7 separate regions of the Homo sapiens genome follow, and regions 1, 2, 3, 4, 5 and 6 are each linked to region 7. Evidence: fine-mapped expression QTL. A gene starts in region 7. Each other region holds a variant in brackets. All regions are shown on one strand. Distances are from middle to middle.

The links.
Region 1: its variant is fine-mapped to the expression of MAD1L1 in whole blood (TOPMed, PIP above 0.99).
Region 2: its variant is fine-mapped to the expression of MAD1L1 in whole blood (TOPMed, PIP above 0.99).
Region 3: its variant is fine-mapped to the expression of MAD1L1 in whole blood (TOPMed, PIP above 0.99).
Region 4: its variant is fine-mapped to the expression of MAD1L1 in whole blood (INTERVAL, PIP above 0.99).
Region 5: its variant is fine-mapped to the expression of MAD1L1 in whole blood (INTERVAL, PIP above 0.99).
Region 6: its variant is fine-mapped to the expression of MAD1L1 in whole blood (TOPMed, PIP above 0.99).

What each region holds. Positions count from the first base shown.
Region 1 is chr7:1,785,024-1,789,023 of GRCh38, reverse strand. No RefSeq gene overlaps it. Among named protein-coding and RNA genes, the nearest start is that of ELFN1-AS1, 45 kb to the right of the region's middle. The variant A/G (reference allele first, on the strand shown) is at 1,970.
Region 2 is chr7:2,134,564-2,138,563 of GRCh38, reverse strand. The region is part of intron 11 of MAD1L1 (mitotic arrest deficient 1 like 1); the gene reads left to right. Among named protein-coding and RNA genes, the nearest start is that of SNORA114, 48 kb to the right of the region's middle. RefSeq lists an enhancer at 1-43. The variant G/T (reference allele first, on the strand shown) is at 2,344.
Region 3 is chr7:1,839,139-1,843,138 of GRCh38, reverse strand. All of the region lies in intron 18 of MAD1L1 (mitotic arrest deficient 1 like 1), which reads left to right. The region is part of intron 1 of LOC100127955 (a long non-coding RNA gene); the gene reads right to left. Among named protein-coding and RNA genes, the nearest start is that of MIR4655, 3.1 kb to the left of the region's middle. RefSeq lists an enhancer at 3,593-4,000. The variant C/T (reference allele first, on the strand shown) is at 1,715.
Region 4 is chr7:1,848,022-1,852,021 of GRCh38, reverse strand. All of the region lies in intron 18 of MAD1L1 (mitotic arrest deficient 1 like 1), which reads left to right. Among named protein-coding and RNA genes, the nearest start is that of MIR4655, 5.8 kb to the right of the region's middle. RefSeq lists an enhancer at 3,500-4,000. The variant A/G (reference allele first, on the strand shown) is at 2,192.
Region 5 is chr7:2,163,143-2,167,142 of GRCh38, reverse strand. The region is part of intron 10 of MAD1L1 (mitotic arrest deficient 1 like 1); the gene reads left to right. Among named protein-coding and RNA genes, the nearest start is that of MAD1L1, 68 kb to the left of the region's middle. RefSeq lists a silencer at 816-1,026 and an enhancer at 851-1,180. The variant T/C (reference allele first, on the strand shown) is at 2,305.
Region 6 is chr7:2,006,312-2,010,311 of GRCh38, reverse strand. All of the region lies in intron 13 of MAD1L1 (mitotic arrest deficient 1 like 1), which reads left to right. Among named protein-coding and RNA genes, the nearest start is that of SNORA114, 81 kb to the left of the region's middle. The variant C/T (reference allele first, on the strand shown) is at 2,139.
Region 7 is chr7:2,231,164-2,235,163 of GRCh38, reverse strand. MAD1L1 (mitotic arrest deficient 1 like 1) reads left to right here and starts at 2,219. Exons shown (of 19, transcript NM_001013836.2): 1 at 2,219-2,292. MRM2 (mitochondrial rRNA methyltransferase 2) reads left to right here. Exons shown (of 3, transcript NM_013393.3): 3 at 1-969. The coding sequence ends at 42. RefSeq lists enhancers at 834-1,366, 2,101-2,230, 2,016-2,310 and silencers at 1,945-2,323, 2,301-2,720.

The DNA of each region.
Region 1 (4,000 bases), 450 kb after region 7:
ACCCTCAGCTCCATTTCCTCAGCTCTGTGAGTCCAGCAGCTCAGCCGGGGTCCCCCTCCCTGTGTCATGGTCTGTGAACTCTCCAGGCAGGATTCTGGAGAATCATAAGGCTCGCTCAAGGAGGGAAAAATCGGAGAAAATCTAAATGTTGTAAAAGAGATATACTTAAGAGATAAATATATGTTCAAATTATTTTTTATTCAAGCAGAGAATATAACTTTTGAGTGTCTATGTGACAGAAAGACTGACAATACATTGAGATGCAAAAAAAAAAAATTGAGTGGAGCATTTTCTCAAACAGCAATGCATTATAACTTGAAATTAAGAAGCATTTTATGATTCAGTTGCACGTGTAAAGCATTCTGCTAAATGAGTCTTGGGTCAAAGAGGAAATAAAAACTGCACTTAAACTCTGTAACGATGGAGAAAATAATCGCTGTTTAAACTTAGATCCAGCTAAGACTATGAAAAAAAAATACATAGGATTAAATGTTTTCATTATTTAACAAGCAGAAATGAAGCTAGTGGGTTAAAGACATCAAGACACATGTCAAGAAAGCAGGAGGAAGCAATACATAAAAACAGAATTTATGTGAATAATAGTTTATTAGTGACACGTAGAAACTCTAAGTTGATTCTTTGTAACTAATATTAACAGTCTGATGGCAAGTACGCTATGTGTTTTTATTTTATTTTATTTTTTGAGACAGAGTCACCCAGGCTGGAGTGCAGTGATACAAACTCCACTTGCTGCAAACTCCGCCTCCTGGGTTCAAGCAATTCTCCTGCCTCAGCCTCCCAAGTGGCTGGGATTACAGGCATGAGCCATCTCATCCAGTGAATTTTTCTATTTTCAGTAGAGACGGGGTTTCACTATTTTGGCAAGGCTGGTCTCGAACTCGTGACCTCAAATGATCCGCCCACCTTGGCCTCCCAACGTGCTGGGATTATAGATGCGAGCCACCGCGCCCGGCCACTGTGTGTTTTAAGAAGCTGTCCAGGTGATGCTCACACATGCTAAAATCTGAGTCACTGTGAAGGTGGCTTTCGAGGCAGATACACCAGATTAATTGAACACCCCCAATGTGGCGCTCCTCCGTGCCTGATGAGAGCGCCTGTGCCCGCCAGGTGCTGTAGAGGAAAAAGGGGCAGATGCCCCCAACGTGTGGCCCATGCACCGGCAGTACCAGCATCACCCGAGAGCTCCTGAGACATGCAGATTCTCAGGCCTGCCCCAGCCTGTCTTGGTCCAAAACTCTGGAGGGGGTGCTGGGAACCTCTGCTAACAAGCTCTGCTAACAAGGACTCGGATATAAGCTAAGGTTGAGAGCTCTGGACTAGAGACCCTGCAATTACTCCCTGCAAAACACCTAAATTACATTGCCAGAATGAACCTGCAAGCAACCAAAAGAAATTCTGGGAGTCCATGGACAAAATGACAGCCAGAGTCCAAGAGGCAGGAGAGGGGCTGAAGCCAGCAGATACTCGGGGAGCGAAGGTGGCTCTGACACGGCGACTCTGTCCTAAGAGGGACGGGGCACCAAGCCTGGGGACCACACTGGGAAGGGGTCAGAGAGCACCCAGCCTGAAGCCAGCATTCTGGAATGGCTGCCCCCTTCAGGAAAAGGCGAACTAGGAAACATCCTGAGCCTTAGTCGGCAGGGAAACTGTCTTAACCTTAGTACCAGGCAAGTTTATTTCTTAAATCCCGAGAGAATGTGCAGCACTGACCAGCCCTGCCACGGGCTTGGCTCCTAAATCTTCTGCTCTTTGCATGACCCCAAAATGACAAGGTGAGAATTGTAATTAATTTTATTTATTTATTTTTTGGAGATGGAGTCTCGCTTTATCACCCCGGCTGGAGTGCAGTGGTGCAATCTTGGCTCACTGCAACCTCTGCCTCCCAGGTTCAAGCAATTCTCCTGCCTCAGCCTCCTGAGTAGCTGGGATTACAGGTGCCCGCCGCCAT[A/G]CCCAGCTAATTTTTATATTTTTAGTAGAGATGGGGTTTCACCATGTTGGCCGGGCTGGTCTTGAACTCCTGACCTCAGGTGATCTGCCTGCCTCGGCCTCCCAAAATGTTGGGATTACAGGCGTGAGCCACCGTGCCCAACTGAGAATTGTAATTTAATGTGGATTTGTAGTGCCTCAGGAACCTGCCCAAAACAAACACATTTTCCTCTGGAGGAATATGCCTCAACCCAGGCCTTAGAGAATGTCCAAGGTCAAGTTCAAATATATATTTACATATAATATGTACAATAATATGATTTTAATAAAAAAACTACCAGAAAGCAAGACACCATGTAAAAGATCAGCCCAAATAACAAATAGAACTTGGCCCAGAAAGACCTGGGATATTGGTCTTAATGAAAACAGCATATAAAACACAACGTTTAATATTTTTAAAGACCTGAAATAGGGAAATGAAAACATAGTAAGAGAATTTAAAAACTAGGAAAGAAACAAAGTAAAACAAATATAGTCATGAATAAATCTTAAATCACTGGGAAGATTAGACAGCAGATAAATACAGCTAAACAGAGAATTAGAAAATTGGGGCCGGGTACAGTGGCTCACACCTGTAATCCCAGCACTTTGGGAAGTCGAGGCAGGTGGATCACCTGAGATCAGGAGGTAGAGATCAGCCTGGCCAACATGGCAAAACGTTGTCACTACTAAAAATATAAAAATTAGCCAGACATGGTGGCACATATCTGTAATCCCAGCTACTTCGAAGGTTGAGGCAGGAGAATCACTTGAACCCGGGAGATGGAGGTTGAGATTGAGCTGAGATTGAGCCACTGCACTCCAGCCTGGGCAACAGAGTGAGACTCTGTCTCGAAAAAAAAAAAAAAAAAAAAAAGAAAAAGAAAAAGAAAAAGAAAAAATTGGCAGACTAGAAGGTAGACCTGCGGAAAATCCACAGACTGCAGCACAAGGGCTGAACACAGACTGACACAGCTGAAGGGAGAATTAGTAGACTGGAAGTTGATATTACAGGGAATGTAGCACCAAGAAAATCAGAGGTGAAAAGACAGGCTCTGAGACACAGAAGGTCAGGGGAGAAGGTCCGGCACAGGGCTAATTGGTGCTGCAGAAAGAAATTCTGCACAGAATAGGAGAGAAGCACTGTCAGGAGGGATAATGGCAAAGGATTTCCTAGAATGAATGAAAGACATAGTCTTTCAGATAAGGAAACCCAGATGAATCCAAGCAGGAAGAGTAGAAATCCATTCAGAGGTGCCTCATAGTGGAACTGCAGAACATGACACACAGGGCTTAAAAGCTGCACCAGAGAACATACAGGTCACCCATACACTACAACAAACAGACCACCTACGACTTCCTATCACACATAAAAGAAGCAAAAAAGGAACAGGAACAACTATCTTCCAAGTTTAGACAGAAAAAAACTGTTAAAGAAAAGCTCTAAAATTGTATGCCCACGGCCAGGCGTGGTGGCTCATGCCTATAATCCCAGCCGAGGCAGGTGGATCACCTGAGGTCAGGAGTTCGAGACCAGCCTGGCCAACATGGTGAAACCCCATCTCTACTAAAAATACAAAATATTAGTTGGGTGTAGTGGCAGGTGCCTGTAGTCCCAGCTACTCAGGAGGCTGAGGCAGGAGAATTGCTTGAACCTGAGAGGTGGAGGTTGCAGTGAGCCGCGACTGCACCACTGCCCTCTAGCCTGGGTGACAGAGCAAGACTCTGTCTCAAAAAAATAAAAATAAAATAATAAATAATAAAAATAAAAAACAAAAAAGACACTCCTAAAATGTTAGTACAGGGATTGGTTGAAAAAAGAACGAAAAAATACAGTACAGGGATTGGTTGAATGAAAAAATACAGTACAGAGATTGGTTGAATGAAAAAATATGGTACAGGGATTGGTTGAAAAAAGAATGAAAAATATTCTTTTTTTTTTGGAGACTGAAATACAGTACAGGATTGGTTGAAAAACACAGTACAGGGATTGGTTGAAAAATACAGTACAGGG
Region 2 (4,000 bases), 97 kb after region 7:
AACAAGCCGGAAGTGTGCGTCTGGCATTCATGCCCCCAATCCCCACCTCTTGATGTGGTTCCTTCCGTTTTGTCAGTAGGATCTGTTTTCAACCTCTGCATGCTGAAGTGCTCATCTCTCTAGGCCACTTGGTCTGGCGCCCACCTCGTCGTGGTTCTCAGGATGCCTCATTTCATTAGGCTGAGTGGCTCTGGACTAAGTGCACCTGCAGAGCTGACCGCCCCACCGCCAGCCTGCTGAGCGCTGCCGCAGCCAGGACGGTGGCCAGGGAGCACGTCCCCTGGGGCAGCAGATGCATCCCCTTCCTTTCTCCTTCCCTTTGGACCCTGTATGCACCCCTGCATTCTCTCACCCTCTTTAGCAAGTTAAAAAAAAGCTGGCATTTCCTCCCACCCCCATGAAACCCTTTGTAACAGCAGTCTCAGGTCCGCAGTGTCAGGGGCTGCCCAGTGGTGGTGAGAGCGCAGCGTGGGTGCAGCCCTGGTGAAGGGCCTGGGACTCACAGCTCTGTGCTCTGATCATGGGCTGGCCCGCGCTGTCAGTACAGAAACGCCCTGTGAACTTCAGCTGCCATCATGGCCTGTGTCGTGTGGCTGGTGTCGTGTGGCCCTCGCATAGTTATCCGACATGGCACCGTCGGCACAGAAACGCTCTGTGAGCAGCAGCTGCCATCATGGCCGGTATCGTGTCCTCGTGTAGTTGCCCCATACGTCCACCTCCTGCTTGGCTTCCCCTCTTTGGAGCCTCCAGGGCCAGAGGAGCACAGTTCAGAAACTGCTGGTCAGGAGACCTTTCCTGGAGAAGTTTCTGTTCCGGTTGTGGATCTGGCCTGTGTGGGAGCCTGAGGTGGCATCTTTGAGGTGACCCGGGACCATGGGGAAAGCGCTCTGTTTCCTGGCTGAGGTTTTCAGGCAGTGCCATGGCACAAGCCTGTCTGCACCTGGGGCTAGAGGTGGCACGTGCAAGTCACAGAAGGGAAGGAGGAGACAGCCTGGGCCCCTCACTCACCTGGGCCAGAGGTGGTGTGTGCAAGGTGCAGAAGGGAAGGAGGAGGCAGTGTGGGCCCCTCACTTGCATGGGCCAAGCAGACCGGTAACATGCCTGCCGCTCTGTGACGTTTCTGTTAGAGAGCGGAAGGTGTCTGACCTCAGCTCCCCAAATCAGAAAACGGCATCTGGAGTGCCATATACGTTTGAGAAGAGGGTGCTTGGGTCAGTTCTGTCCTTTGCAAGCGAACATCTTTCTTGGCCCCCAAAAGGTGGTAGTAGAATGTAGATTTCCTCAAACATTTGGAGAAAACACAGAAATGAATACTACTTGAATGTTGTTTATTGTTGCTTCAGGAAGAGAATAGGGAGATGGGAGAAGGGCCCTTGCTGGGGTTGGTCCCTAAGTATTTTGGTGCCCTGAACTTCTGTTTCCTTGCTTATTTTGAAGGGGTTTGTGTGAGCCTAACCCCAGGAGAGCAGCCCACACCCCACAGCGGAGCCTAGAGCAGGGTCAGGGCTGCCAGGAGCTGCTATCTGGGGAGACTGAGGTGGGGTCCTCGAGGCCTCCTCTCTCATGCCCGGCACTGCCAAGCCCAGGGCATCATCAGTGGACTTGGGAGCATCCTCTTATGAACGCTTTTCTTGAGTTTCCCTGTAACTTGTTGTAAACTTTGTAAGCTCTGAGCCAAGAGCTTCCTTCTTAGCCTTGAAGCTGGCCACTGCCGGCTCCTTTCCATGCCGAGCTGGGATTCTTGGTGTGCAGGTGTGGAGAGCAGCTCCGGTGCCATCAGGCGATTGGAGTACGCTTTCCTTCCTTGTTTGGCAGAACATAAAATCAGTCTCAGGCCCTCCCACCATGGCCTCCACTGCTGAGCCCCGAGGAGATGCCAAGAGATGGGAAGGGCCCCCACCGAGGAATGCAGCTGGCTCAGAGTCTGCCTGTGGAGAACAGGAGCCCCTGGAAGGGGCAGGCTTTGGGCAGGTGAGTGCACTTGGTCTGAGGGAGGGTGTTGGTGTTGCCAGCATCCTGAGCTCGAGTTGGTGCCATAGACCTGGGAGGGTCTCTCGATCCTGTTAGGAAACTTGGGTAAGAGAGTCGGAACAAAGAAACATCCACTGCTAGGCACCTGTGGGTACCAGGCACTCCACACGTGTCCCCCTGCCCTGGCACTGATCCTGCCTGCTGGCGGGGAGCCTCTCGCTTTGCCCCAGTTTCCCCAAGGTTGTGGAGCCACTCAGCCTGGAGTCTGCTTGTGAGCTCAGGGCTGGCTGTCTCCTAAGCCTGTGCCCTCTCACCACGTTGCCTCTCATCAGGGCGATGCTTTTTCAAGCTCAGATATCACAGGTCGCTTCC[G/T]CAGGGCATGAAGCCTCTTAATGCTGACCCTTTTTTAATACTGTGGCCGAGAAACACAGTTGCGCAGAGTCTGCAGGAGGAACAGTGTGGACGTGGCTGTGACAGGCATTTTTGGTCAGCGTGGGGCAAGTGCGGCTTCCTGTTTCTGTCTCATTGAGCTTGGAGTGGACATAGGGGCTCTAGGAGAAGGAAGGCTGTGACCCCTGCCCTGAAGGAGCTTTCCCTCTGCCTGGGAAGAGAAACCAGCAGTGAATCCCTTAGGGGACTAGAGAGCGTTGGGCCGCGTGGTCCTGATCATGGCCACGCTTCCCAAATGCCTGGCTGCTTGTGAGTTATATGGCGAAAAGAGCCTGAAAATAGAGATCCTTGGACTCACCTCCAAAGGCTCAGATTCAGGTCTCTGCTGAGGCCGTTGCTCCCTTCATGAGTGTACTTTCCCTTGGGCCTGGGACATGTGCACACACGTCACCATGAGAGGTGGCAGGCAGGACTCCCATATGTGGCCGTGAGAGGTGGCGAGAGCTGGTGGGCATTGTCCCGAGGGTCGCTGTGAGAGCTGGGGGGCAGGAGGCCCGGACATTGCCCACCACCTGAGCCTTCCTCTGCACCAGCATTGCCCTCACTTGTCAGTCCAGGCCCCTTTAATGATAAACAATTACCGAAAACAAAGAGTTTTTATTTGTGGGGAATCATAACTATCAGTATTTACCATCTTTGGAAATTAAAATTAAAATTAAATCATTATTTACAATTATATTTATAATCTCATTAAAAACAATTCATTATCACTTAACAAAATATATTTATGAAAAATGCATTTTCTAACACAAAACGAGACAGTGAGAGGAATGGCATTGTTTTTTACTTTTTACAAATCTCTTCAGTGTCTGGTGAAATAGAAGATGGGAGCATCTCGTGTCTGCGTCCATCTGCCACGGTCTCTTCTTTTGGAGTCTGTGGAATAAGTCTGGCCCCGCACAGGTGTGCAGTTGGAAGAAGGAGGGCCTAGTGGCCTGAGGGCCCCACACACAGGTTCTGCTCAGCCTTGCCTGCTGGGTGGGTGAGGGCTGAAGGCAGGTGCGCTCACCGTTCCTTCACACCTTTCGTGGCTAGTCTTACCTTTCTGGGTAGTGTTTGCTCAAAATTCTGATTAGATTGTAGGGGGTGTTTTTTGTGTGTTGAACATGAACATCATTAATGAACGTCAGTCATTGAATGTCTGGGAAGGTGTCCTCAGTTCTGGTTTTTCTGGAAACGGTGACTCATGTATCCTAGAAAAGGCCCACTTTGCAGCATTCCGGGCAGTTGAAGGAAGATGGCTCAACCCATAAGCAGCAGAGCTGACTTCTTTCAGGTGTTCTTGCCCTAGATGAGCAGCAGGGGTGTCCCTGGGGCCTGGAGATCATGCCCACCTGATTTCTGGTGGAGCCAGGAACTTGGGCAGCCACAAGTTGCTCTCTGAGAACCCCACAAATCCAAGACTAGTCCTTAAGAGAGGGTGGCCTCTCCAGAGACGTGTGCAGCTGCTGGACACAATTGGGCTCTGGTGACTGGTCCTGTTTAAATGGGCAGATTTTTCTTTTTGTTGTCATAGAGAAGCTAATTTCTTATTACTTGTCAACTATTTCCGTCTTAAAACCAAGTAAGAAACTAGAAG
Region 3 (4,000 bases), 390 kb after region 7:
CACTGTGCCATCGGGGCCTCATGTGTGGTCTTGGTGGAGAATGACCAGGGCTGCTCTCTAGCCCCCGTCCTCCAGATGGTCCCCAGAGGGACTGACACACTCAAGGAATGTGCTACTGGGAAGCCAGGATGCCATTTCAGTACCAGCAGCCCCACTGTGGGCCTCACTTGAAGGCTGTGCTGGAGCCCGGCCTCGGACTCACCCCAGCCAGCCCCTGAGCTCCAGGCAGTGTACCCTCCCCATCCGGGAACCAGCCGCAAGGCAGCCCGTGTGCTGAGCCACAGGGAGGGCCAGCTGGGCGAGGGGCTGACATGTGGGACGCAGCTGTGCAGCACTCAGAGGCCCTGCCCACCCTCCCCTCCAGGACACAGCCTGACCGTGCCCTGGGCCTCGGCTGCCTTGCAGGGGCCCAGGTGAGGAGTGGGAGGTGGAGGCCTCTGCAGCTGCAGGCAGTAGCTACTCAGTAAATGATGGGCCCAGCGATGGACGAAGGACGAAGGCCTCCCTCGGGGACCTGAAGAAGCATAGCTGTCTGTCCCTCGCCGGGGCTCAGGTGGCTGCAGTTACTCAGCTCGCCTGGGACAGGCCTGGGGGGCCAGTGAGCACGCGGCATTGTGGCAGCTCAGGCAGGCATGCGCCGGAAGGGATTCTGGCGGCCTGTGGACTGGGAGAACCTTTCCAGCTGCCAAGAGTTGCCCTTTGGATCCTAAGTGCAGGGCCAAGCCCGGCTGTGACGGCTGAGGCCGGGCTCCTGGAGGCAAGGCCACCTCAGGCCTCCAGGGCCGGAGCCGCAGGGAGCTGCTGGGTTTCCACAGGGCCACGGGGGCTGCGGCCACACGGAGCGGGAGCACAGGTGGGAAGGGTGTCTGTGAAAAGTGAAATCTGTCGCCGCTTCCTCTGGCTTAATTACCGGCATGGTAGTTGCAGAGTTGAAATGCAGCTTTAAAAGCCTTTGTGAGTAGTTAGTGTCAAACACACAAGATCTACAAAGCCATAAACTCACAGCTTGGTGATATTACCAAGTACTAATTAAGAAAAAAAAAGAAAATTCCCTTTCATGATCAAATTTTCAGCCCTGCCAAAGACGAAAAACAAGGCAATTTGCAGCGGATGGTGACGCCGGAGGGTAAGTGGCGTCCACAGGAAGATGGCGGCCGAGCGCGGCGAGCAGGCAGGGTCTGGCTGAGGGCTGGGGTGGTGACGGCGTGATTGTGCCTGGCTACCGGGTTCTCAGCCAGGGAGCACCTCATTCCCAGCAGAGATGGAATCCCAGCTCAGGAAGGGGAGACTCATGCGAGGGCAGAAGCGAGGCACCCGCCCAGAAGGATTGGGGGTCTCCCCATTTCACAGGTGGGGACACTGAGGCTGAGCTCACAGCCAGGACGGGGACAGCAGAGTGACGGCCGAGACCATCTGCCCCGCGAGGGAAGCAGCGCCCACCTTCCTTGGTGGTCCGGGAAGGCCGGACTGGCCCCTTGGGTCCCCACCGGCCTCAGCCACTGTGGGCTCGTCCAGCTTCAGGCAGGCGCCCGGCCACTCACCTGGGAGGCTCTGAGAACGACAGCTTCTGTCTCGTGAGTGACGTGGTGCCCGCTTTCATCCTGGGGCCCACAGCTGCCAGGAGAGGCCAGGCCGAGGTCAGGAGGCTCAGCAGCCGGTTCCGTGACTTCCTCTTTGCTGAGGAGGTCAGGACAGAAGCTTCTAGATGACAGGC[C/T]GCTCAACTTGGTATAAAACAGCAAATTTCTGTGCCTGTGCTGTCGGGCTGTGAATGACTTCTCGTCTGTTTCATGAGATGCAGCTTCAGCCCAGGGAGGCATCAGATGCAGCCGGGCGAGACGCGGAGCCAAGAGCTGTCCTCGCCCCCCATGTGAGTGACTGGAGAGACGAAATTCTCAAAGTCTTGTCACTTACGGGGATATTTTTAACCCAGGACCAGGGAAGCACAGCTCTCATTGGTGGCCGTGTGCTCTGGCGCTTGGGCAGTGGGCAGCAGCCAGGTTATCGGGACGTGCTCAGGCCCAACAGGACCCCCAGAGCCGCACCTGCCCCCCACAGAGTAGAGCCGGCCCGGGAGCGGCCTTGGTCACATCTAATCCCACCAGCCGCCGGCAGTGGAGAGCTGTGCCTGGCCCAGAGATTTGGGCATCACATCCAGGCTGCAAACGCACGGGGACCACCTGGCCCCGCCAGGGTTTGCTCTATCCTGGCTTGGCCTGCGTGGCCTCTCGCCGTCTGCACGGTCCACTCACCCGAGTCAGGGCTGGGGCATGCAGGGAGTGTGCAGTGACATTGGGCAGAGGGAGGCTGCTCAGGTCCAAGTAGGCAGAGAAACCGCATGCCCAGGCCGCTAAAACCTTGAACTGCAGGAGCCCTGAACTGCTGTTGCTGTTTTATTGTTTTGTTTTGTTGTCAGATGGAGTCTCATTCTGTTGCCCAGGCTGGAGTGCAGTGGCGCGATCTTGGCTCACTGCAACCTCTGCCTCCCGGGCTCAAGCGATTCTCCTGCCTCAGCCTCCCGAGTAGCTGGGATTACAGGCGCCCGCCACCATGCCTGGCTTTTTTTGTATTTTTAGTAGAGACGGGGTTTTGCCATGTTGGCCAGGCTGGTCTGGAACTCCTGAGCTCAGGTGATCCATCTGCCTTGGCCTCCCAAAGTGCTGGGATTACAGGTGTGAGCCACCACGCCTGGCTTGTTTTACTGTTTATGACGCGGCTCTGCTGCTGCTAGGACAGATACTTGTACAGCCCGATTCAAAGACTGTGCAGAGGCGTCTCCCAGATACCCCGGGGCGCACTGCAGTCAAGGAAGGCTGCCTGGAGGAGGTGGCCTGGAGCTGGGGCTCACGGGTGAATTAGAGTTTGTCTGGCTGGGTTGGGGAGATGTTTCTGGCCTCAGGATCTCACTTGCTCACGCTCACCGGCTCCAGGGCATCCAGCGTGCAGGGAGAGCAGAGGGGTAGGCCTCGGGCTCCAGGCCAAAGTTGGGGAAAGAGAGTGTCAGACCTGGGCTTGGGGGATGACTCTGATGTCGTCCTCATGGGGGATGGTTGAGGAAAGGGTGGGGTGTGGCTCACTCGTCTGGCCCTCGCCCATGTGGAATGCCCGCCGTGCTGGGCCCCGCTGCAGGTGCTGGATGCGCAGCAGTAATGCGGGGGTCCTGCTCCGCCTGGGCACGTCTTCCAGCAGGGATTGGGGGGCCGATGGCCAGGCAGGGTCTGTGCTCCATGCCTAGGTGGTTATGGGGGGAGGCGGGGAGCCTGGGCCCTGGCCGTGGGTGGACCTGTGGCTTGCTGACCTGGTGCCCAGCTGCCCCACCTCCCAAGCTGTGAGAAGCCAGGACCAGCCCCATCCTCCATCCAGATGGTCTCTGACATTGCCCTGGGAGCCGGGGGGAGGCGGGGGGGATGTTCTAACTGAAGGGCCTGGGCAGCCTAGAGCCCTTCTGTATCTTCTGGCCAATGGTTTTATCTGGTCCACTGCCTCCCAAGCCTGCACATCCCATCTCGCGCGTTTAAACTGTTAGAAAGTTACTCCTTTGACTAAGCCGGAAATGCTCTCTATGGCCCTGTGGATCTGCGTCCAGTTCTCCACGACATTCTGTTTTTGGAGCCTTTGTGAAGAGGCTGGGGGTTTGTCAGCCCCACTCGGAAGCGAACAGGCTGGTTCCCCGCCCCAGGCCCAGCTTGTCCTGCGGGCAGCTGGCCTGAGAGCCAAGCACTCCCCAGGCCATGGCACCGGGTGGGCAGGATGCTTTCCTGCCAGGCAGGGGGCAGGACGCTTTCCTGCCAGGCAGGGGGCAGGACGCTTTCCTGCCAGGCAGGAGGCAGAGCCCTCCCTGGGACCCCGAGTGTCTGTCCTGGGTGGGGACTAGACGGTGACCACCACCTCGACCCCGGGCAAGCCCACCTAGCCCCGCCCTCCCACCAAGCCCTGCTCCACCTACACGAAGCTGCGGCCAGCCCCTTTTGCCCCCAACCTAAATGACTGAGGAGTCTGTTAG
Region 4 (4,000 bases), 380 kb after region 7:
CCAGTGAAGGTTCCCAGCCCCTCTCGTTGCCGCTGACACTGTCCGCCCACCCGTGCCGGGCCCTGCCTCCCCGAGCTCTTCCCACCATTGGTCCCACCCATTGTTTCTGCCACTCCAGCTCCCGGGCAGCAGCCAGGCGAACCAGCTGTTGGCAGGCAGGCGACTCTAGCTCCCTGGGCAGCACCTAGGAGGCCTGGCCTTTGGCAGGCAGGCGTCACAGATCAGTTAGGCCCTTCTGCGCCTGCCTGGGATGCTGAACAGGTTTCGCGACACTGTAAGTGCCTGTTCCTGAGAAAGCAGAGGTCGCCGGCACTGAAGGCTGTGTCCCCAGCACCTTCCCCTGTGTGGACCTCCTGCCGTCTTCCTCGCCACGCCTTCACTAACTGTTCCATTCTAGTTTTCTTCTTCTTGGGACCGTTTTGGTTGGTGATTGGTGACTTTCCAGGAATCGTGCATTCCTCGAGTTTTCAGACTAGCCGTGCTGTCCCGGGGCCCCGAGCAGATTCCTCTGGCCCTGGTCACTGGGGTGACGCACAGTTCATCAGGGGCTTCCTGGGCACTGCTGGGGACGCCTCTCATCCACGAGGATGGCACGTTCGAGGTCTGAGCTGTCCCAGCACGGCCTCCCTGTCGGGGTTTCCCGTGACCTCGAGTCCCATCTCCAGGACGAACGTGCAGACACCCTCCCCCACCTTCTCCATGGGCTCAGCCATCAGCCCCCAACCCTGTGCCGGCCGAGGCCAAGCTCTTGCTGCCGGCTCTGGTCTGGGCGTGGGTCACCCCCACCTTCCACCCTGTGCCGGCCGAGGCCGGGCTCCTGCCGCCCGCTCTGGTCTGGGCATGGGTCACCCCACAGGGTTGCCGCCATCAGTCAGCAGTTGGGCTGGGAGGGCCACATGAGTGCCTATAGATTCTGGCACAGACGCTTGTGGCCTGTGGGCTTACTTCCTGCCCTCCCTGCCACCTTGTTGGCTCCAGCCGGGCTGCCACGGTGGACGCAGGGTCACAGAAGCTTAGGGCAACACATTTGTGGTCCTCGACCCACGGACGCGACGCCAGGCCCTTCTCGTGTCTCTTCCTGCTCTCTGATGCCCGGAAGCTGCTTCCTATGGGGGTCCCACACGGGGTCAGGCAGGTTTCGGTGTGCCCTCCCCACTCCCCATCCCAGGAGGGGAGGAGCTCCTAGTTCTGAGGCTGCTCTGTGCACGGTCTGGCCTGCAGTGAACATGTGTTTGCTGTTGTCGCAATCACTGCTGTCACCAGTGGCTGGGCAGGGCCAGTATGCAGGGGTGGATAGTGCGGTGCCTGATCACAGGGCTAGCCCTGTGCCCTGGGGTGCCTGTTCCCCTCTGCGAACTTGGGCAACCATGGCTTTGGGGGTCCCCGGACCTGGGTCCAGCCCCGTGCCTTCTCCGGCCCAGGCCGGCTCTGCCGAGTCACCTGTGCAGCTCCCCGGAGTCAAGCACAGGCTCGGGGCAGTGAGATCATCTGCCCAGGCCCTGACCCACCGTCTGGAGCCCTGCAGGAACTTGGGGTACCCCCACCTGGACCCACTAGAGGAAGCCTGGGCCCCACAGCCAGTGTAAAGCAGCAGCTTCTGTTCATGGTACCAGGGGGCTGAGCTGGGCCCAGGCAGCTGGGTGGCTCCAGAGGTGGCAGGGGGTGAGTTCCTAGGAGGCAGGGTGGGCGCCTCGTAAGATAGAACTCTTGTGGGAAAGGATGTCTAGCGATGGGAGCTGCCTGGAGGCGTGGGTCCAGAGGGGCCCTCGGGACCTGACTGGGCGCCTGTCGGTTCCGTCCTGTTGCCCCAGAAGGGGAGGCCTGCCCAGGGGTTCAGGACCGAACACCAGGTCCAGGGGAAGCCGCTGCCCCGGCCGCCGCTCACCCACAACCACTCAGATTAAGGCGAACGAGAGTGGTGAGAACAAACGCCTCACAGAGCTGTTCCGGAAATTAGATTTTTCCCCTTAAGGTCACTCACTCCACTGGAAAATTAACCAATATTTTCCTAATCAAAGCGGGGCTGTTTCTTCCTTGGAGGAAGGTGGCCGCCCTTCCAGCGCTTGTCATTCATCTTGGAGGCAACTGCTGCCGCGTGGGCTCTTGTTTTATTAAATAAACTCCGGTTTTTATGGCCGCCTCTCAGTGCCGCCCGCCCCCCGTCCAGGGAGAGTGGCCTCAGGTGTCGGGC[A/G]CCGCGCCGTCCTGCTTCCGCTGCCGCTGCCACTGCGGGGTCACCTTCCCTCCACAGCCCCTCAGGGCCCTCCCAGAGCCGGCGTCTGCTGATCCAGCCTCCCCTGTACCCCAGGGGGCTCTTTACACCTGGGGTTCCACCTTTAGCCCAGGTGGGAGCAGGGAGCCGTCTTGAAGTCTCACCTAGGACGCCAGGACGCTGCCGCTTCCCGTTCTTGGGCCACGCCGAGCACGACTTCTTGGGGCCTGTCCAGCAGTGCAGGCTGAGGAGGGCGTGGACCCAGTCGGCCACCTCAGTGAGGTCCTGGCTGCCCCCTGCAGACAGCCCTGAGCACCCCCGCCTGCCTGCCACTGTCTCGACGGGGAGGGCCGACCATCAGGGGTCCAGGCAGCACTTCATAAAGCAAAGCTTCACCCGGCTAAGACGTGTGGGCTGCTTGGGGGCTCTGTGTCTGCAAAACAGTACCTGTGAAAATAAGGAACCGTAGGAGACGTGGGCTGGAAGGACGGCTGGTAAACATGGCCCCTCCTCACTTGGAGATTTGTGCTGCCAATAACGAGGACATGGATGAGGGGCCTCCCACAGAGCAGCGCTTCCCAAGTGCCGCTGAGTGAAGAAGCCCTCGACAGCCTCGCACAGCATCAGCTCCCTGACCCCGCATGTGCGTACGTGTGTGTGTGTGCATGTGTGTACGTGTGTGTGCATGTCTGTGTGTGCACGTGTATGTGTGTGTGCATGTGTCCGTGCATGTGCATTTGTGTGTGTGTGTGTGTGTGTGTGTGTACATGTACACCCGTGCTCACAAACAGGCTGGAGAACTACATGCCGTCGCCTCTGTGCCCCCGCTGGTGTGATTCTGAGTGACTGGGTGATGGGTGATGAGTGTTATTTTTATATTTCAAAATAGTGTGAGAAGGAGGCTGTCCTATTGAGGCACAGACCAGTGGGCAAGGACCTTGGTGGTGGGGGGCACACAATCCTCTGGGGGACCTGGGCTGCCCCTGTGGGGATGTGGCATCCCTTGGGATGCTGTGGGCAGCACAGTCACCTCCAGGGCCCCTGGCTTATCCTCAGCAACTCAGAATTAAGTGACATCTTCGTCCTTCTCTGGACCAGTTGTTTTCCAGAGCAGGTCAGACAGAGCTCAGCTTCCCCATCTGCCAGGATTCAGCGCTGGGCTCTCGGAACCAGGAGCGCAAATCGCTGGTGCTCGGGGTCCATGGTGCCCCTTGAGGGCTCACACAGCCTTCCCATGACCCTTGTCTTCTACTCCTGGTAGGGTCTTGAATCCCAGGAGATCTTGCTCTCCCATAAGAAAAGCAGCTGTGAAAGCACAGCCGGGCCCGGTGACTGGCCCAAGCCTCCGAGGAGGCGGCAAGCTTGGATGGAGTGTCCTATTCAGCATGAGGGCCCGGCATTTCCACCAGTATTCAAATGGAGCCGGAAACTTCCTGTTTCCATTGGCCTGAGACCCCGGGCTGTCCGTCTGCCCTGGCATGCACACAGCCCACCCACACTTCTGTCTACCCGAGTGGCCGATGGTCAGCCGCACACACCAGGAAGCCTTTGCTGGGGCCGGTGGTGGTGATGCTTCCAGCACGGGCTGCTTGCTTGTTGGCATCTGTGAGTCCTGACCCTTCCTGGGGCTGCAGCAGGCGTGAGTGTTGTTGAGGGAGGGAGAGTGGCCTGCGGACCCAGCCCTGAGAGCGACACTAGGTCTGTGTGCCCCCAGGAGCTCCTCCATCATCGTCTCTGCACACCCCAGCCCCGTCCCACCACATCCCACGCTGGGACTCCCAGCCGCTTCTC
Region 5 (4,000 bases), 68 kb after region 7:
AGTGAAGCATGCTGCCCTGGTCTTACTGTTTCACCGGCACTCTCCTATCTGCGATGCCACTGTCCACAGCGGGGTTGCTTTAGGGTTTCGAGCTCACCTGGGGCCTTCCTGGGTTCTAGCCCCGTGAGCTACAGGCACTTCTTTGTAAAAGGGGATTCCACCAGTTAGGCAGATTCCGGTTCAGTCTCCAGCAGCCCGGGGCCCTTCCTGGAAGAGTGCTTTGTGAGCGGAGTGCGCCGCCCAGGTGTGTAGTGGTGCTTCTCAGGCCCATGGGCTGCCCTTCCCTGGGCCTCTTCTGTTTGAGGCCCTTGTCACTGGGTTCGCCTGGCATGATGATGGAGGCCCTGCAGCTCCCTGCCAGGCGTGGTTCCGCCCAGGTCATTCTCCCGGCCCAGCTGCTGTGGACAGTGGACACACGCTGTCACAGCCTCAGGCCGGCCGGGCCACGCCTCCCGGAAGCGGGCCTGCTTGTGTGTGGTTGCATCCCAAGCTCTCCACTTGCTGCCCCTGTTCTGAGCTTCTTGCCGAAGTTGTGTTTGGGGCCATTATCTAGCTTTCTTTTTGAACGTTTAAAGCATTCAAAAGATCAGCTTTTCCAAAGAGTGAGGAAACAGGGAGAGAAAATTATGGCATTTGTTTGAAAGGTTCTGAGGGCTTTTTTTTAGCTTGAACAGTTCAAACAGCGCCTCTTGTTAATCAGGAATGTTCTGGCATCCCTGGGGTGGTCACACGGGCTTAATTGGAACCCAGGCTGCTTTGAAGCCCTTGAGATCCTTCCTGAGCTGGGAGAAAGAGTGCGAGGGCAGCAACTGTAAAGCCGGCATTTCTTCATTTTATTTACATGTGTCTGGGGACCCTTGTAACTCATGTCCCTGCAGCAGTTGAGCCAAGTTGCTGACTTGTGGACAGCTCAGAGAGATGGGGGCCAGTTTCTGGCAAAAGAGCTGTAAAACATGGCCTGGGTCCAGGGCTGCGGCGGGATCCCCTCCTGGGAGGCGAGGTCTGGATGGACCACGTCACAGTCGTGGTGGCGTGGACTTTGCTGCTGGCGGCCTGTTCTTGTCAGAAGTTTCCACATGGGAGAACGTGTGGTTTTACTGAAGTCACTTAATGAGTGACCCTAATAGCTCTAAGACGTTCATCAGTATGGACCCCAGGACTTACTTCCTCTTTCGCAGAGCATGTGGACCCACAGTAACCACACTGGAGTTCCAGGCACAGGTGTACCCTGGGGGCCGGTCATTCTGCGTACACAGACCTGCCTTTGTCAGCGGGGCTGTGGGCAGCATGGGGTGGCCATCCAGCCATGGCCATGTTGCTCCAAGCCCCACCGTGGTCCTCAGGGGCACTCTGTCTCGCCCTGAGCCTCCAGCCACCTTGCCCGTCAGTCTTTCCCTGTACCTCTTGGGGATGGGGAGTCTGCCACCTAGCAAAGCACCCACTTGTCCCACCCCTTCCATTCTGTTGAGCTGAGACGCGTGTTTTGGTCGTTTCGTGCCGTGGACACCACCTTGGTTTAGTGAAACACGGCGCAGAGTCCCCTCTCCCCTGGACCACGTTTCCCCATTTCAGCTCCCTGCTGTGCACGGCTGCTTCTTCCCGCTCTGCAGAGGGTGGTCCTGGTGGCTGGAGTGCGGCAGGCAGCAGCATCCTCCCATGGTGGCTCGCATCCCAGAGTGTGACCGTGGGTTCATGCTGACGGCTCAGGCATCCCCTGAGCCTGGACACTGAAGTGTACAGATTGAGGTGTGTTGTTGGATGAGTCATGACAAGTGGAACATGTGCACTCGTCCAGATAACACACTTCTATCAGTCCAGAGTTCCCGGGGTCCCCCCAGTCCAGCCCTTCATCCCCGGCAGCTGTAGCTTAGCCTTGTTTGTTGTAGAACTTCCTATAAATTCTTCCCTTTCTATTTTTTTTCTTTTTCTTTTTTTTTTTGAGATGGAGTCTCACTTTGTCGCCCAGGCTGGAGTGCAATGGTGCGATCTCGGCTCACTGCAACCTCCACCTCCCGGGTTGAGGCGATTCTCCTGCCTCAACCTCCAGAATAGCTGGGATGACAGGCGTGAGCCACTGCGCCCAGCCGTATTTGTATTGCCCACCTTTTGTTTCGTTGAATCTGTGCTCAGGTGTCACCTTTCCCTAGCTAGAGCCCTTTCCTGGCCCTCCCGGGTCAACATGCCCCCTTCCCTCAGCCTCAGGCTTTCCACTCTTCTCCAGATCCGGCCACTGGATCAAGCCACTGTCACCTCCTCTGGGCCTTGGGGATGTCACCTGCCCACTCTTGTCATGGTCGGCCTCCT[T/C]AGCGAGCCACTCAGCTCTAGCTGCCAAGGACTCTGTCTGTTTGTCCATGTAGTGTCCTTGCTGGGCACACAGCAGGTGCTCAGTTAAATTTGTTCACTGGATGCAGATTCTGCAGGCATCTTCACAGATTATGCTGATGGAGCAGGTGTGCCCTACCACCATATGTTTCTACAATTGATTTTTTTTTGGTGCAACTGTCAAAAAATTTATTTTTCCTCTACCACCCGCAACCCCCCCCCCCCCCATTTTTCCTGCTTCTTAGTGTGGTTTTAGACTCTGATTCTGTCACTTAACATATCTGCTGTCTCCATTTGATGTGACCTACAACCTGATAGGCATGCCGTCTGCCCCTGCTCGGGCGATGGGCGTGGGCACCAGCAACCGTCACAGGGGTCCAGGGTTTTCCACTGACTGCCGGGTGCCCTCAGCGCAGAGCTCCTGCAGGAGGGTCGAATTGTCTGTTTCATAGACCAGAAAACTGAGGCTCAGCTGGGCCCTTCACCTGGCTGCCTCCAGAGTGCGGGCTTTCTGCTGTGCCAGGCTGTTCTCTTGCCTCTCCCATTCCTTTGCATCAGTCGGCACTCTGGAACAGTGCCTGAGGATGTTAGAATCACCTTATGTCTCCTCTGGAAAGAGGCCAGTGGATAGAGAAATATTTATTTCTGATCTTGTAGTCTCTGTTTATACAGCGGTTCGTTATACAAGTAACCTATTGAGAAGAGGACATAGGTGTCTGCATGCATCCGCTTCTCAGTGAGTCCATGCTGGACTGTAACTGTTCCCATTTTCCTGAGGTGGGGGGTTGAGGTTTGGAGAGCTCAGAGTCACAGATTCGCAATGAATGGACTTAGAATTGAGTGCTTGACTGACTGCAGACACTAAGGTGTTAACTCTGCTGCCTCTTTATGCTTGGGATGGTTTGCAGAACCTGCTTTTTGAAAACAAGACTATTTACATGCACGTTTCTGTTCCCAGTAATTCTTGGCATGGATGAGGGAGATGCTTTGTGTCAGATTCGCATGGTGAGGAGGGGGCAGCTCTGAGAGGAGCCAGGCCCAGGCTGCCTCCAGGGCGTCCAGTGCTCCCCAGGCTTGCCTAGGAGAGTGTCGATTCCTGCTGCACAGCAACTCTCATGACCAAGTTTAAAATGCATTATACGTAGAAAAGTGTGCTTCTGTGGCTCACGCCTGTAATCTCAGCACTTTGGGAGGCCAAGGCGGGCGGATCATGAGGTCAGGAGTTGGAGACCAGCCTGGCCAACATAGTGAAACCCTGTCTCTACTAAAGATACAAAAAATTAGCCAGGTGTGGTGTCATGCGCCTGTAATCCCAGCTACTCTGGAGGCTGAGGCAGAAGAATCGCTTGAACCGGGGGGGCAGAGGTTGCAGTGAGCCGAGATTGTGCCACTGCACTCCAGCCTGGGCGACAGAGTGAGACTCTGTCTCAAAAAACAAAAAACAAAGAATACATACTGTCGCCTGTGTGCCCATTCTCAAGAAAAAGGAAAGTTTCTTTGAAAACATGTGGACCTTCCCTAGTTCCATCCCATTACGCCCCCAACCCACACTCCCAGAGCAAGCCCCTGGGCTCTGTGATCACTCCTGAGTTTTGTAAACACTGTGGTGCTCACTCAGTCCTGCTCCCTGGAGGCCTTGGCCGCCCATCCTTAATGTGCCGGTTTGTGCCTGTTGCAC
Region 6 (4,000 bases), 220 kb after region 7:
TCTTCCCTTCCTCCCCGTGACCTCCCAGAGGCTCGGGCAGCTCTGCGGGTGCTGTCACTTGGCTGCCGTGGGTGGTTTGGCTCCAGGAGGGCTGGGGAGAGCCTGATCTTCAGGGCCTCGGGTTGTTCACCAGGCCCAATACTTGTGAGTGTGTTGGTGATGTTTCCCTCATTGAAAGAACTTGAGATGACTGTACTGTACGAAGCAGAGATAAAGCCAAAAAAAAAAAAAAAAAAAAAAACCTGTTAAAAATCATGCAGTGAAGAAAAGTGGGCCAAGGGGTTTATGGAAACCACCCTGGAGTCTGGGCTGTGGGAGCCTCTGCTGTGTGGCCACAGGTCCTCAGTGGGAATCGCGAGGTGCTGGCTCCATTCCCAGAACGGGGCGTCTGTGCAGTACAGAACTGCGCTGAGCCGGGCTCCCCGTGACACGCCGGTGCCACCCCCGGCAGCACACACTTAGAGCACCGCTGCCCAGCACAGGAGCTGACGTTGCTGGGCGTGAGGAATAAGCCCAGGGCAGGCTCTGTCCTCTCCACCATGGGAGGACCTGCTGCCACCCTCAGAGCATCCCCCAGGGCCTGGGCGTCCACCCCCTAGCCTTCCTTGCATCAGGGGCTGCAGTGGAGCCCCTGACCGTGCACTGACTGCCTGTTGTGTGCTCTGTGGCCAGCGCTGGGCTCACAGTCATCCTCAGACCTCCACCCACAGGGAGAGCTTCTGTGTACAGCCTCACCCAGGGGCAGGTGCTGGGGCTGTGGCCTGGTTAGCCCTGTGGGGACCCTGTGGTGTGCCGCCTCCTGCTTCTTCACGTTGTGTCACAAGCCACTTGGAGACCTGGCCAGGAAGGTGGAGGCCTGAGCTTCCGTCCCATCCTTTTCCACGTGACCGTGACCATGACCACCGGTGGGGCTGCCTTCCCCTAGCTCCAGCCTTTGTACCGTGTGTGGGGTCTGTGCCTGGTGCCCTCTGGTCCTCCTCAGTCCGGCTGTCCTGTGGCTGCTGGGGTCTGTGGCTGCCTGTCCTAGCCATTTTCTGCCATGTCCTGGCTGGCAGGAGTGTTGGATCACAGGCAGCAACTTCTCACCTCAGGATAAAAATAGCCCGGCTGAGGCCTCTGTGCAGCACCTCGGTGGTGCCAAGGGCGCCAGGGCCCGGGGCTCGTGTCTCAGCACACGTAGCCACCCGGGACACGTGGTCCCACCCGGAAAGAGCTGTGTGTGACCCTTCAGCTGCTTGGGTGGAGGCAGCTCCCTGGTCACTCGGTGCCAGGGTTGCGGGGCCGGGGCGTGGCTGCGCTGGGGGCCTGCTCGTACTGGTTTTCCCGCCATGTGATGAAACCCTCTCCCCACAGCCTCCGCACCCCTCAGTGCTCCCTGGTGTGTGCCCCTGAAGCCTGGCTCCGAGTGGGCTTGGCCTCTCCTGGGGAACCCGAGCACTGCGTCAGGTCGTTTGGGATGGAGCCGTGTTCCTTCCCACCTGAGCTTCCTGCGTGTCTGCGTCTGAGGCTGTTTGGGATGGAGCCGTGTTCCTTCCCCCCCTGAGCTTCCTGCGTGTCTGCGTCTGAGGCTGTTTGGGATGGAGCCGTGTTCCTTCCCACCTGAGCTTCCTGTGTGTCTGCACCCAGCCCGGGGTGGGCTGTGGAGGAGGGGCTGAGGCTGGGGAAGTGCCTGGCCTGCCTGCGAGCAGGCTTGGCATCTGGTGTTCCCAGCCGTCAGCCCAGCCCCCACCCCGGGCCTTGGGAAGCTCTCTCTCCATCCCACCATCTCCGCATCAGAACAGGCTGCACCCTACACTGCCTTGCGGAGCCAACCTGAGCTTGGGGAGCTCTTGTCTCAGAGGTGAGGACGCTGTGGCCAGGGCCTGGGGGCTCCACCCGGTCACCCAGAGAGTGAGAGGTGTCTGTGTCCCCCGAAGGTGACTGGGCAGCCCCACAGTCAGTGCTAAAGTGCACTGTCCAGGGTGTTTCCACAGGGGGTGCTCTGCCGCCCACCCACTGCCTCCATCACAGATGCGGTTTCCTGGAGGAACCCTACCGAGACCAGCCTGGAGTTGCGCTGTCTGAGGCCCTGCGGGAGCTGCTCTCCAGTGCACACACGGGCTGTGCCAGCTCCTCGCCCTTGTGAGTGTGGTTCTCCC[C/T]GAGCTCTGGGGATTCCATGTTTTAAAGGCAGCCTTATTGAAATATGATTTATACTCAGTAAAATCCCCCAGCTTTATCTGTATGATTTGATCCATGTTGACCGTCAGTTTCCTGCCACCCCTGGCTCGTAGAGACACCGGTCTGGGGCCTGTGACTGTTGTTTTGGGCTTTCTTGGAACTTCACGTAAACAGAGTCCTGCAGTTGCTGTGTCTGTCATCTCTGACTGAGCACAGAGCTTTTGAGACCCATCAACGTTGTATCAGCAGTTCATTTACTTTTATTACAAAATAATTCTCTATCCTGAGACTCTACCAAAATGGTCTCGTCTGTTCACCCACTGACCAATACCAGGGTGGTTTCCCATTCTTGCCAGCTGGGACAGAGCTGCTGTGAATATCTGCGTGCCAGACTTCCTGTGAATGCAGGTTTTCATTCCTTTGGGCTCTACATCCAGGAGTAGGATTGTGGGGTTTAACTTTTTTTGGCGGGGACAGTGTGGGGACAGAGTCTCGCTCAGTCGCCCGGGCTGGAATGTAGTGGCGTGATCTTGGCTCACTGCAGCCTCCGCTTGCCGGGTTCAAGTGATTCTCCTGCCTTGGTATCCTGAGTAGCTGGGACTACAGGCATGCACCACCACACCCAGCTAATTTTTGTATTTTTAGTAATTTCACCATGTTGGCCAGGCTGGTCTCAAACTCCTGACTTCAGGTGATCCACCCGCCTCGGCCTCCCAAAGTGCTGGGATTCCAGGCGTGAGCCACCGGGCCGGGCCCTAACTTCTTAAGACATTGCCAGGCTCTTCCCAGCGGCCATACCGTGGCAACACGCGGGGTCCAGTGACGCGTTACTGCACAGGCTGTCGGCACCAGAGCTGGGAGAACGCTCCGCTGTGGCACTGTCGGCTTTGGTATCTGGATCCAGCGGGGCAGCAGCACATTTAGCCCTGGCTTCAATCTGTGTGTCTCCAGTGACTGACGTGCCCAGCGTTTCCCGTGCTTCTCCACCTCGGCGCCTCTTCTCTGGTGGCGTCTGTTCAGGTCCCTTCCCTCTGTCTGGTGCTGGCCTGCCAGGCCCAGCTGCCCATCTGTGCCTCCTGGAGTTCCCATTCCTCTCTCCTCACCCAGCAGGCCTGCTGGGCTCTGTCTGTGGCACTGCCCCGGCCTGCGTCCTGGGGGACTCACCCCATCCCCTCCCGCGGCTCTGAGCTCTGAGCTGCCTGCCCTCCCTCGCAGGAATCCCACTGTTCCTTGTGTTGTATCTGGTGTCTGGGGACTGAGGTGGGGGGTGTGTCTGTGCTGGTTCCTACAGCTTGTCCAGAAGGAGAAGTTCTAGCGCATTTTGGAGCCCATGAGAGCCTGTCCCCCAAAGCTTCCTGGTGCCCCATCTGGGAGCCTCCTCTGCGCACACAGAGAGCGTCGTCTTGGGTCTCTCGGGACCCCAATGTCCTGCCTCGCCTCTCCTGTGCTGGGCCGTGCGGGTTTAGTGATGTCCTGTCTCTCCTGTGTTGGGCTGTGTGGGTTTAGTGATGTCCCGTCTCTCCTGTGTTGGGCTGTGCGGGTTTAATGATGTCCTCTCTCTTCTGTGCTGGGCCGTGCGGGTTTAGTGATGTCCCGTCTCTCCTGTGCTGGGCCGTGCGGGTTTCGGTGTTTTCTTTGTTTTTCTTACTTTAGCTGTGTTCTTGGAACAATAAGGTGAGGGAGGAGTGGACGTTTGCCAAATGCTCCTCGGTGCTGGGACTCTGCTGTGAGCTTCTCACACCCTCCCTCCACAGAACCTGGGGAGGCCCAGGACAGGCACGCATTGTGGCTGACACCCCAGGCCACAGCCACCTTCGTTCTCCCAACTCCCTCCTGCCCTGTC
Region 7 (4,000 bases):
GCCACACAGTACCACGGAAGGAAGGGCACTGTGAAGCAGTGAGGATTTCTTGTGCCATTTTCATAATGGTCATTAGCTCCTTTTAAGCTAGAAACGTAGCCTGAGCTCCTGAAGAGTTCCTGGGAGATTTGAGCTGATTTTGGAGATGGAGCAGGACAAGTGGGGAGTCTCTCTCTCTCTTTCTCTCTCTCTCTTTTTAACCAAAAAGAGATGACAAAACTAAGTTCAGGGGCCATGGAAAATGAAAAAGTCCGCTATATTGTGATTTGGGAAGAGAAAGTTATCAAGAGAAAGAGGTGAGGATGGAAGGATGGAGAAAAACAGACTGTGGGAAGGATCAGAAGGAATCCGCCGAGGCAGGGATGGGTGTGCCCATGTGTGCCTTGACGGGACTTCATCTTATAGACTGTTAAACTGTCACACACAAACAGGCTTTCCACCCCTGCTCTGAGAGCACCACGCACAGATTTCCAGTTCTTAGTGTGGCTGTTTAAAGTAGAAAATCTGGGGGCTGGGTGAGGCCACTCATGCCTGTAAACCCAGGGCTTTAGAAGGCTGAGGCTGGGGGATTGCTTGAAGTCAGGAGTTCAAGACCAACCTGGGCAACATAGCAACACCCCCCATGTCTACAAAAATGAAAAACCAAAAAGCAAACCAAAAGAAAAATCTGAAATTTCCATCTGGGGATTAACTTCTGTCTTTCTGGTGAACAATATAGCAATTCACGCATTCTTCAAGCAGCAAAAGTTCCCGGAACAATTAGGGAAGACGTATGGTCTGAATTTATCCAGGCAGTGGGTCTGCTTTGGTTTTTGCTGGAAATTTATATCAGTGTCTGGGCTCCCAAGAACATAAATGTAATTGCCAAAGCAAGCAGTGATGTGGTGTGTTTATTTTCTTTTACTCATCTAGGAACTTGACGCAGCTTTATATTTAATAAAATAATAGAGATTGCATTATTTTAAGGTACTTTCATGCTTTGAAGTTTTGTTTTTTTTAAACTGGCTTCCTCAAAGCCATTTCCTGGAGGTGTACTCATCCCTCAAGAAGAGTTTGTTGACTATGATTAAATTCCAAGGACCAGTGGGGGAAGTCTGGAAACCCAGGAATCTCCATCAGGAATCTGGGGCTCTGTCCAGCTCCCCGAAGGAAACTGCGGGTCAGATGTTTTGATTTTTTTTTTTCTTTGAGAAACAGAATCTCACTCTGTCACCCAGGCTGGAGTGCAGTGAAGTGATCTTGGCTCACTGTAAGCTCCACTTCCCGGGTTCACGCCATTCGGCCTCAGCCTCCCGAGTAGCTGGGACTACAGGCGCCCATCACCACGCCCGGCTATTTTTTTTTTTTTTTTTTGTATTTTCAGTAGAGACGGGGTTTCACCGTGTTAGCCAGGATGGTCTCGATCTCCTGACCTCGTGATCCGCCTGCCTCGGCCTCCCAAAGTGCTGGGATTACAGGCGTGAGCCACCGCGCCCGGCCGCCAGATGTTTTGACTTTTCATTTTATTTCTGGTTGCAGTCAGGTTGTTAAGTCCAGGGACTCTTGCCCTACTCCACCTCGTTCTCTTATTCCATTTCATTCCCGGGGCACACAACTTGGAAGTCTTTCTCTGAAAGAAGGAAAATTCATTGCAGACCCTTAGGAACAGCATCTTCTTAGAGGGAAGCCAGGGGCTGGGCAGAGACGGGAGGAGGAGAGGAAGAGAATATGGAAACGAGTAAGGCACACTCTTCTCAGGAAGGCTCCAATTTGAAGGATAGACAAAGGTTACCATAATAATGGTGGGGCCTGACCTCACCCCATTGGATGCTGTGCCCTGGCTTGCAGAGCACTGGGAAGGTAGCCTAGTAGCATAAATTGCATTTCTAGTGGGCCCAGAAAAAAGCAAAATAACGGATTGATTCAAGCTGATACTGAGTAGCAAAATTTTGGGAAGAGTCAACGGTGCAAGTTTGTCCGAGGAGGCTGCCGTGGGCGCGGCTATTCCACACATTACGGCGCGAGGCGAAAGCCTTAGTGGAAGCGCGTCCTGCGCAAAGCCGGGGGGCCCCCGACTGCGCCTTGGCTCAGCCTTCGGTTCCGAGTCCTTTCCGTGCGGAGTCTCCCAGGGGTGGCGGCTCCGGGTGCGGACGCGGAGTCCCCAGGATCAGCCGGTGCGCAGACTCGGTTCTTTACGGCCCGATTGCCACGCAGGTCTCGCGAGAGCGCAGGCGCAAGTGTCGCGATAAATGGGCGCCGGCGGAGCGGAGGGAGATCCGAGCGGCGGCGGCAAGCTGGCTGCGAGCGGCTGAGGTAAGCGGCCCGGCTCGCGCGGGCGGCGGGGTCCCGGGGTCCCGGGGGTCCCGGGAATGGCAAGGGAGGGGCCGAGGGCCCGGACCGGGTGTGCTCGCCAGGGTGGGGCACAACGACCCAGACCCCGTGCCTCAGGACCCCGCGCCCGCCCCGTCTCCCATGGGCGCGCTCTCCTCTCTGTGCTCTCCCCTCCTCTCCCCACTCCCCTGTCCCCACTCCCCCTTTGGGCTGTGCTGGGGACAGCGGGCCCCTCGCCTGGGTCTCCGCAGCCGTCCCTTGTGCCAGGGCGGGCGGCCGAGGGGCGCGTGCTCGTGGTCCCAGCCCCGGGGTCCCGCTGCCTACCGTGTGGGTCCCCGGGCTAGGGTGCCGGCGCGCCGAGGAAGGGGCCTGAGCTGGCGCCTGGTGGAGAAGTCGGGGCTGCAGGGGCTCTTGGCATCCTGGTGGCTCGCGCCGGTCCGCTCTCAGGAAGGGGGCGTGTGGGCCCGGTTTCCCCTCGGGGATGGCAAGGGCCACCCTGATCTCGTTTGGGCAATGGAGGAATTGGGCTGTGGAGCCTCCTTCCAGGCGGGCCTGCCTCTGCGGGGCTGGCAGCCTGGGGAGCTCAGGCCTCTGCTTGCACCAGGCCAAGGTTCTTGTTAAATGGAAACTCAGAAACTGTGCAGCTGCAGAAGTTCTACCTTTGGCTTTTAAACGCGCTTGGCTGTTCCCTAGTTGTGGCTGGTGGGCCGGCCTGCCATGAGCCCATAGTAAGCGCCGGTGTTGGGGGTGCAAAGTTCTTTACTGCGGTTTGTCTTCAGCCTTCCAAAGCCAGACAGACCCAAGTTCCAATCTCCGTTCTGTAACTTTTTGAAGCTTCGGTTTCATCATCTCTAGAATCTGTGTAAAAAGACCTAATTCACCACCCTGTTGAGACTGAGCTTACAAATATAGTGCTGGTCAACCTGCAGCCGTATTCCCATCATCTAGCGGTGGAAGACTTGAGGGATATTGGCCCCGTTCCCCACAACTTTGCAAGTAGATTTCACTGTCATGAGTTTACAGATGAGGAAACTGAAGTTCAAGAAGTCTCGGTGCTCGGAAATGTCAGATACCTTTCTTTCTGATACCTAGTTGAAAATAGTAGTAGTACTTATTAATGTCACTAGAAATAAACAATGAAAATGAGCACAGCTGTGATGATCATCATCTTTACTGTCACTGTTGCATGCCTCGTTTCTGATTCCCAGAGGCCAGATTTTTTTTTTAATTAATTATTATTATTTTTTGAAACGGAGTCTTGCTCTGGCACCCAGGCTGGAATGCAGTGGCGCGATCTCAGTTCACTGCAACCTCCATCTCCTGGGTTCAAGAAAATCTCCTGTCCCAGCCTCCGGAGTAGCTGGGATTACAGGTGCACGCCACCACATCTGGCTTTAGTAGAGATGGGGTTTCACCATGTTGGCCAGGCTGGTCTCGAACTCCTGACCTGTGGTGATCTGCCCATCTTGGCCTCACAAAGTGCTGGGATTACAGGCATGAGCAACAGTGCCTGGCTTATGTTTATTTATTTATTTATTCATTCATTTATTTATTTTGAGACACTGTCTCACCCCGTTACCCAGGCTGGAGTGCAGTGGTGCGGTCTCAGGTCACTGCAACCTCTGCCTCCCAGTTTCAAGCGATTCTTGTGCCACAGCCTCCTGAGTAGCTGGGATTACAGGCGCACACC